2 linked regions of the Homo sapiens genome follow. The protein of the gene in region 2 interacts with the protein of the main gene of each other region in a pairwise test. Each region holds a gene or a part of one and is shown on either strand. Other genes may lie near its edges. The genes, in order: LACC1 and OSER1.

Region 1 (3,819 bases), on a different chromosome or scaffold from region 2:
CCAGGAAAGATGTACCTAGAACAATGTATATTGTTATTCACTTACAGAACATGGACTAGTCAGGGAAAAAAATGCTACACTTTATCAGCATTTATCACCTAAGTTCATATATGCACAGTACAACCTTCCATATTGTCTTATAGACATAATCTAGGTACAGAATTTTATAATCAAAATCAAGTGCTTATTTAAGAAGAAATGTCTACAAAAGTTACCAGGATATCAGGCAAAATTCACCTGGCTCAGCCAGAGTATGCTTTTTAGTCATCTGGCCCTTCATCTCCTTTCCTTCTATTAGCCAGATTTTTCTCAGAAAACTTGCTTCTCCATGAACACTTTATGATATGAAATATGACTACAAGTTAGTGATACTTGATTTTAAAAGTCACATTTAAGAATCAATTTCAAACTTTTCCACATCTGTACTAAATGAGGCAGACTCTGGGTAAAGTTTTGGCGACTGGAATAGAAACATGATTTAAAACATACATTAATTTGCCTTTGTAGTAATGACAAATAATTTTCACCAGTTATTAATAACAAAACCTTGTAAATTAAAAGATGCGAAGAACTGTAAAAAACTTAAAAGTAAAAAACCGTGTATTTATATTATCTAATATTTTTTCTAAAAAACATATTCCTCTAGTTAATTAGATAATAAGAATAATTTTAAAATATCAGCTTCCTGATAGTTCATTACATTTAGGAGAATTTAGCTGAGGAATGGCTGTGAAGTAAAGTACACGCCAACTTTTCTATATGAAGTTTAAGTAGATCTCTTAAAATTAAATGCCAAATATTTCTTCCTTCACTTTTAAATCAATGAAAGATACCAGACAGGAAAATTTCTGTTATTCAAACTCAAATGAAAACAGATTTCATATTTAAAATGAGTGTTTGTGTACATGTGCATGTCAGCTGCTTAAATAACCACCACCTAAATTCTTCTTAGAGTTATTAATTGTTCTCCAAAATAAATTTCATTTTAGAACAATCAGAAATAATCAAACTTGCAGTTGAATGAAATCAGACATACCTTGTGGCTTTACGGATGTCGATACAGGGATTTGGTGAATCAAATAGTTGTACACATGCAGGATGAAGATTATGAAATGCCTCTGCTGATTCCCTTGGAAGAGTAAAACAGCAAGGTCCTACTGAAGGTCCAAGTACAACAACAATGTCTTCCAAACTGCAGCCATATTCTGCTATCATAGCATTCACTGTAGCCATAGCAACACCCAACAAAGTACCTTTCCAACCTGGTAAATAGGAATAAAAAGAGATAAGAGAAGTCAAAACATAAAAAATTTCACCTGAATTTATGTCTAAGTTAAAAGTGAGCAGATTTAGTTTGTATATTTTTCAAAGTCCAGAAATAATAAATTACATTATCATGTGGTTTTTAAATGAGCCATACTACACAAAGCACCTGACACAGAAGAGACATGTAATGGGAGTTTTCTTCATCTTCCATTTAAAGATGCTCTATACTTTTAGTTTCCACTGAGATCATAGCTTCTTAGTCTTCTATTTTTCACATTTTAAAAGATTGTGGTTAAAAACCCACAAAATTTACTATTATAACCACAAAAAAATACTATTCTAAGTATACAGTTCAGTAGTGTTGAACTCACATTGTTGTATAACCAATCTCCAGAATTTTTTCATTTGATAAAATGGAAACTCTACAACTATTAACAATAACTCCTTGTTTCTTCCTTTTACCAGCCCCTGGCAATCACCATTCTTCTTCCAGTTCCTGTACATTTGATTACTGTAGGTATATCATATAAGTGAAATCAATACAGTATTTATCTTTTTGTGACTGACTGATTTCACTTAGCATAATGTCCTTAAGGTTCATCTATATTGTAGTATGTGTCAGAATATCCTGCCTTTTTAAAGCTAAATAATATTCCATTGTATGCACACACATTTTGCTTATCCATTCATCTACCAATGTACCTTAGATTGCTTTCACCTTTTGGCTATTGCGAATAATCGTGTTATCAACATTGGTGTGCAAATATCTCTTTGAGTTCCTGATTTCAGTTATTTTGGATATACTTCCAGAAGAGGAATTTCTGGATTATATGGTAATCTATTTATAATTTTTTGAGAAATTGCCATACTGTTTTCTATAGTGGCTACACAATTTCACATTCCCACCACCAGTGCACCAGGATTTCAACTTCTCCATATCCTCAACAACACTTATTTTCTGAGGTTTTAAAATATTAGCCATCCTAATGGATGTGGGGTGATATTTCACTGTGGTTTTGATTTGCGTTTCTCTAACTTCTAATCCATGAACACAGAATTTCTCTGCATTTATTTGTGTCTTCTTTAATGTCCTTCAGCAATGTTTTGCAGTTTTCATCTCTCCCTTTTTACAAAAATATATCTATTATATTTCAATTAACAGCCTCTTTTTACTCCCTTCCCACTTGCCCAGACTATCGTTCCCTTGCCATCTTTGTCTTATCTGCCTTGCATCTTACAGTGTTCTAAGATAAAACCATCTTCTTTACTTATGCTACCTTCTTGTTGCCAAAGACAGAAAGCTAAGAATATTGCATTTTTCCTTTATTCCCTATATCTGGGTTTGATTCAGCTGATATGGTTGGCCAATAATGAGTACCCTTACACCTTCCTTAAGCACTCCATACTCATACCCTTCAAAAGGTAGGCACTCAGGTGAAGGGATCAATTTTTACAGATAAAAGGAGATGATGAAAGCAAGAAGGACTTAGGTGACAGGTTCAGCCTCTACAGGTAACCCACTGAATATGTGGTTATGGGAAGTACAGAATGAAGACATCAAGTTTCTATCTGTAAGTGGGTAGGATATCAATAATTAAAACAGGAAACCTAACTGGCAGAGAAGACTTTAGGAAAAAAATGTTGAGTTTTTGACATAATGATTTTCAGGCACCTAGGAAGATGCAGACAGTGATGTTCAAAGGGAAGCAACTAGATATAGGCATTTTGAGTTAAAGAGAGAAACTGTCAGGGCTTTTCTACAGATGAGAGTAGCTCTCTTCCTCAGTGAGCCTCCTTAGTTATCCTCTCACTTGTAGTTCATCCACCTCCTTTCTATTTGATTTTTCTATGCCTATCTATATATACATATCTAGTTAAAAGATCTTTATTAAATTAGTCCCATAGAAGAATTTTATTCTTTTTGATATCTGATAAAAGTAGTATACAATGTAGCTAATTATATTATATTTTAAAGTTAATTTATTTTTATTCTTCCAACTTTTTAGGTTCGGGGTACATATATGCAGGTTTGTTACATGGGTAAATTGCATGTCACTGGGGTTTCGTGTACAAACGATTTCATCACCCAAGTAGTGGACATAGTACCGAACAGACAGTTCTTCAGTCGTCACCCTCCTCCCACCCACCACCCTTAAGTAAGCCCCCATGTCCATTGTCCCTTTTTTTGTGTCCATGTGTACTCAATGTGTAGCTCCCACTTAAAGGATACATATGGTATCTGATTTTCTGTTCCTGCATTAATTCATTTAGGATGGCTTCCAGCTGCATCTATGTTGCTGTAAGGATATGATTTCATTCTTTTTTATGGCTTTATAGTATTCCATTATGTATATGTACCATATTTTCTTTATCCAGTCCACCACTGATGGGCATCTAAGTTGATTCCATGTCTTCATTATTGTGAAAAGTGCTGTGATGAACATACGTGTGCATGTGTCTTTATGGCAGAATAATTTATATTCCTTTGGGTATATACCCAGTAATGGGATTGCTGGGTTGAATGGTAGTTCTAATTTTAAGTTCTTTGAGAAA
Region 2 (4,412 bases):
TGCACATGAGTGGAAAAAGAAAAGAAAACAAACAAACTTCTCTTTAGCCTAAAGAAAGGTTGAAAGTAAAGAAAAAAAACAGAAATGACTATTGTGTAGACGCACCACTAAATGATCTCTTAACTAGTTTGATTAATCAAAGTCCTCCATATTTTCCACCTGATTTTTATATTTAAACAGAGAAAGGTAGATGAAGAACCAACCAAAGCAACAAGAAACACAACAGAGAAGTCTGTTAATAAACCCTTGAATCTAGTCTCCAAATTATTTTTTCACTCAGGGTTATTAGTACCAAATTTTGAATACAAATTAAGCAAACCAGCATCTATGAACATATCAGAGAGAATCAGAAGAAAAGTACCACAAAAAAAATAGAAATAGAGAATATTTGAAGCAAAAGGTTCACTTCACCTCTTTATTTCTAAGCCTTTACCCGCCCCCCCCCGCCCCCACCCCTCTTGGGCATTCTCAGAGGGAGCAGTGCCTCTCCAACGGCCCTTGGGTCCTCTCTGATTCATATCTGCTCGTTTCTCAAGGTGGCTCCGAAGTTATTGTGAGACCTCTAATATTCCAAAGGTCAAGGTGTCATAATGTTTGATATAAAGTAACCATTATATTATTGTAGTACCAGCGCAAAATAAAGAGGCAAGGAATCAGGACTTTTCACTTTACTTATTTGCGGAAGTTAAGGTATTTTAGGCAGAGCTCTCTGGGGAACACTGAAAACAGTCTCAAAAGAATTCAGCTACTAAAAAAAAAAAAAAAAATTCAGCCAGCCTGCACCTCAACTTCTTAGGACAAAAAAATAATTTAGATACATTCTCGACGTATATTTTGCTGGTTTATTTAAGTACATAAACATGAAGAAACATTATCCACACAATCCCATGCTTCACTAGTCTCTAATTCTCAGTTTAGGGTAGGATCCCCCAAATACACAATCAATTCCTATATACCTGGGGGGAGAGGTGAGCAATCACTTATTTCAATATTTTCAAAGCTTCACATCATCTAAAAGAGTACTATTGCAGGTTGTAAACAAATCCTTCCTGCTGGTAGAACTAAATTGAAGTTTGACTTACAATGTTCCTCAATTACCTTATGATCCGTTAGTCAATGTTCAGCTCTTACCGAGTTCATAAATCATCTGAGCCAATCTCCCCAACCCGCAGACCGCCCCCCAAGTCCTCTTTAGCCCTCTCTGGAAATCAGTCAGCATTTACGTACACATCACATTTAAGTATACACTGCTGAACCCTACAGGCAGAAATTCATTTCTTTCACAAATATTTACAGAATTCCTACCACGTGCATGGCACTAGAATGAATGCTAGGGATAGAAGCCCAAACTCCATTTCCGTAAGGACTAGAATCTCATTCCTGCCCTCCAAGAGCTTACAATGTAACACTGTGCTAAGAGGCTCTGAACCTACATATGTAACTTTTAATTATACCATGCTGACTTAATAGCATGGCAGGTGATCACCCTAGATGTTAATACAAACTTTACATTCCTGTTGACACACTAAAAGATCTATCATCTAAAAACCAAAACAGGCCAGAATTAAAATCTGGCTACAGACTAAAACTTCAGGAATGAAGTTCTGTCTAAACCATTTTCAGACTTCCAGCATTTTTTTACTACTCACTTTTTTTCTCAGTTATTTTAGCCAAGAGCAAATGAGCGTTAGGCATAACCTTAAGAGCTAGAGAAGAGCATGTTTGTAATTATAAAAGGCTCATTATGCTCCTCTGCATCCCCAGATCCCCATTCAAAGAAAGGGCTGTACAACTAACTCCGGACAACAGATATAATTGGCTTGCCTTTCTTCATTAATATTAAATTTGTGGGAGACAGTCTTGGCGTTTTCACTGCAGTGAACTCGTGAAGTTGAACAATCTCCAAAGAGATGAAACTTTAAAAAGCCTATTCGAAGTTAAAGTCAAATCACACCAGGCAATTTAACTTTGCCTCGGATTTTCCACAACCTTACAAAAATTACAAAGTTCTTCTAAGTTCCTCCATCAAAAGGCCAAATTCCTGGTTTTTTCTTTCAACAAAATGGATGCGTCACAATCTTATTTACATCTTGCCGTTTTAACCAAGACCTCCTTGAATCCCAAGCCTAGGTCTACACTTCCAGGCCCCTGAGAAGACCTAAGAACGATCAAGAAGGGATGCGCGGGTAAGCGTTGTCATCACAACATTAAAGATTTCGAAACTCCCAGACCACCAGAAAGCGTAGAGTATGGGGAAGAAAACCAAACCCAGCAACTCTAAGAGGCAAACTAGACCGGGAGGAAACAATCGGCCCCCAGGACAAAAAGCACATTCACACCTCTCCGTGCAACCCACTCATCCCTTTATACTCGCAGCGCTGCAGCCAAAGCACAAAGTTCTTTCTTTTCACCCAGAGTCTGTGCCTGTCGCGGTTAAACATGAACGGAGGAAAATTCCTAGTCAGAACCCAGAGGGGTAGGACGGGGCTTGGAGTGTGGGGACAACGCCAAGCAGGGAGCTGTCCAGGGGCACTGCCCGCCCGGGGTCTCCAGCTGTGAAGTTGCGCTCCTCGGGAGATTCCTGGGGTCAGAACGAGAGGCTGGAGTCGGAGCGAGGCACAAGGGATGCGGGAGAAGAAAGGAGTGGGGCCGAAGAGGTAGCCAAAGAGAATGGGGCTCCGAGGCGAGAGAGAAAGGACTGGAAGGGGCAAAGGGCGGCCAAGGAGGGCGAAAAGGGGAAGCTGCCGCTGGGCGGGAGACGGCGGAGGAGCGAGACGGGGCGGGGGACCGCGGGAGGACGGGAAGGCGGGAAGGGGAGAGAGCGTGGAGCTCGGAGCTCCAGCAGGCACAGGCCGCGGCAGATAAGGGGGCGCGGAGAGGCCCAGGCCCGGCCCAGGCAGGAGGCGTCGGGAGACGACGCGACCCAAGGCGGGCGGGCCCGGGGAAAACCGCCCGCGGCCAGACCGGCAGTGGAAGCTGAGACGCAGTGCTGCGGCCCCTCCCCGTCACGTCAGGGCACTTACCTCCTCGCAGCTGGGACGCTCCGGTGATGCGGGGCAGTCAGTTCAGAGCGTCTCTCCCAAATCTCGGCACCCGACTGACCCGGATCCAAACCAGCCAAGGGGGCGGCCCGCGCCTCGGGAGTCGCGTTGCGCCTGCGCACTCCGGCATGCACCCCTCCCCCTGCTTATGCTCCTCCCACCCCAGTGACTCGGCAGCGCGGCAGCCGACGACTGCGCAGACGCAGGGCGGCGGCCGCGCCTCTCCAACGCCCCGCACCCGCCCCCCTCAGAAGCACGTGCGCCTTACGTAATTTCCTGTTATTCTTCGGTTTGCCTCCTCCCAGTGGCGTGGATTTGCTCCCGACCCGCTTTTGGGGCGTGCCTGCTTCCTCCTCTCTGTTAGGTGAGTGAGTAGGCGTCATTCTTCACAGTAGTCCTCTGCCTCCACCGCCCCGGGATCTCCTTGCGCTCGGTCCTCTACGTGGAGTCACCTATGCAGAGGAATTCCACGGGGCGGGGGCGAGGACAGGGTGCGGGGGTCTTTATGGCAGACAATCCCCGGCTGAGCGCTTGGCCAGAGTTTCTGTGATGCTAGAATCTGGACTGCCTGCGACCTCTCCGGGACTCGGACACCAGCCCTCGCCTCCTGGTGATCTTTTAGGTCCTGCAGAGAAGTGAAGAGGTATTGGACGTGGCCAGGGTCAATAGTGTGAAGCCAGAATTAGAATTGAATTGAAATGCCTTCGGTTTTGATATCTCTGCTGTTTGTCTTGAGGCAACTGCTTTTCCTCCTTTGGGCCTCTCAGTTTTCCATCTAGTAAGTGAGGAAGTTGAACCTTATCGGTGAATCTCGTGTTTTCAGGCGTAGACTCCTTTGAGAATCTGGTGAGAACTGTAGATCCTCTTGCCAAAGAAATGCACCTACACACCAAATTTTGCAAAAAGATTTAGGCAGTTCACCAAAGGAGATGAATTTTAGGATTCTTTACATTTTTCTGATTCTGAATGTTGCTCAGATGGTAGGCGGGAAAAGGTGATCTGTGCAACAGCTGCCACCCGCTCCATCACCAGGACTGGTTCTGCTGATCTAGCTGTGCCTCTCCTCGCCTGCCAATCTCCAGCTCCACGTCTGCACTGCTCAAAGCTTCGTGAGAACAGATGATTTTGCGCAATTGAGTTGGATGGCGTTGATTGTGGCCCACCCCTAGAGTGAGGGTTTTTCCCTGAACCAAAACTGGCCCCATCCACCGTCATTCCCCAATACCTTAGTTGTAGTCAACTAGATAGGCTGCCGAAGATGGTTTAACTGTGTCCAGCTTAACTACAGCCAGGCTTTGGAATGCCTGGCCTATGTCTGTAAATGAAATCTAACAATTTATTGTATAACGTTGTTAAACATGAAGCATGATG

The links.
Region 1: the proteins of OSER1 (region 2) and LACC1 interact in binary tests that used the Homo sapiens proteins (3 or more experiments, as listed by UniProt).

Annotation. Positions count from the first base shown.
Region 1 is NC_000013.11:43,886,200-43,890,018, reverse strand, and holds part of LACC1 (purine nucleoside phosphorylase LACC1), read right to left. Parts: exon of another isoform or gene 3,229-3,819; intron 1,263-3,228; coding exon 1,037-1,262; intron 1-1,036. UniProt on the Homo sapiens protein: Purine nucleoside enzyme that catalyzes the phosphorolysis of adenosine, guanosine and inosine nucleosides, yielding D-ribose 1-phosphate and the respective free bases, adenine, guanine and hypoxanthine.
Region 2 is NC_000020.11:44,207,673-44,212,084, forward strand, and holds the start of OSER1 (oxidative stress-responsive serine-rich protein 1), read right to left. Parts: upstream 3,100-4,412; 5' UTR 3,024-3,099; exon of another isoform or gene 1-3,023.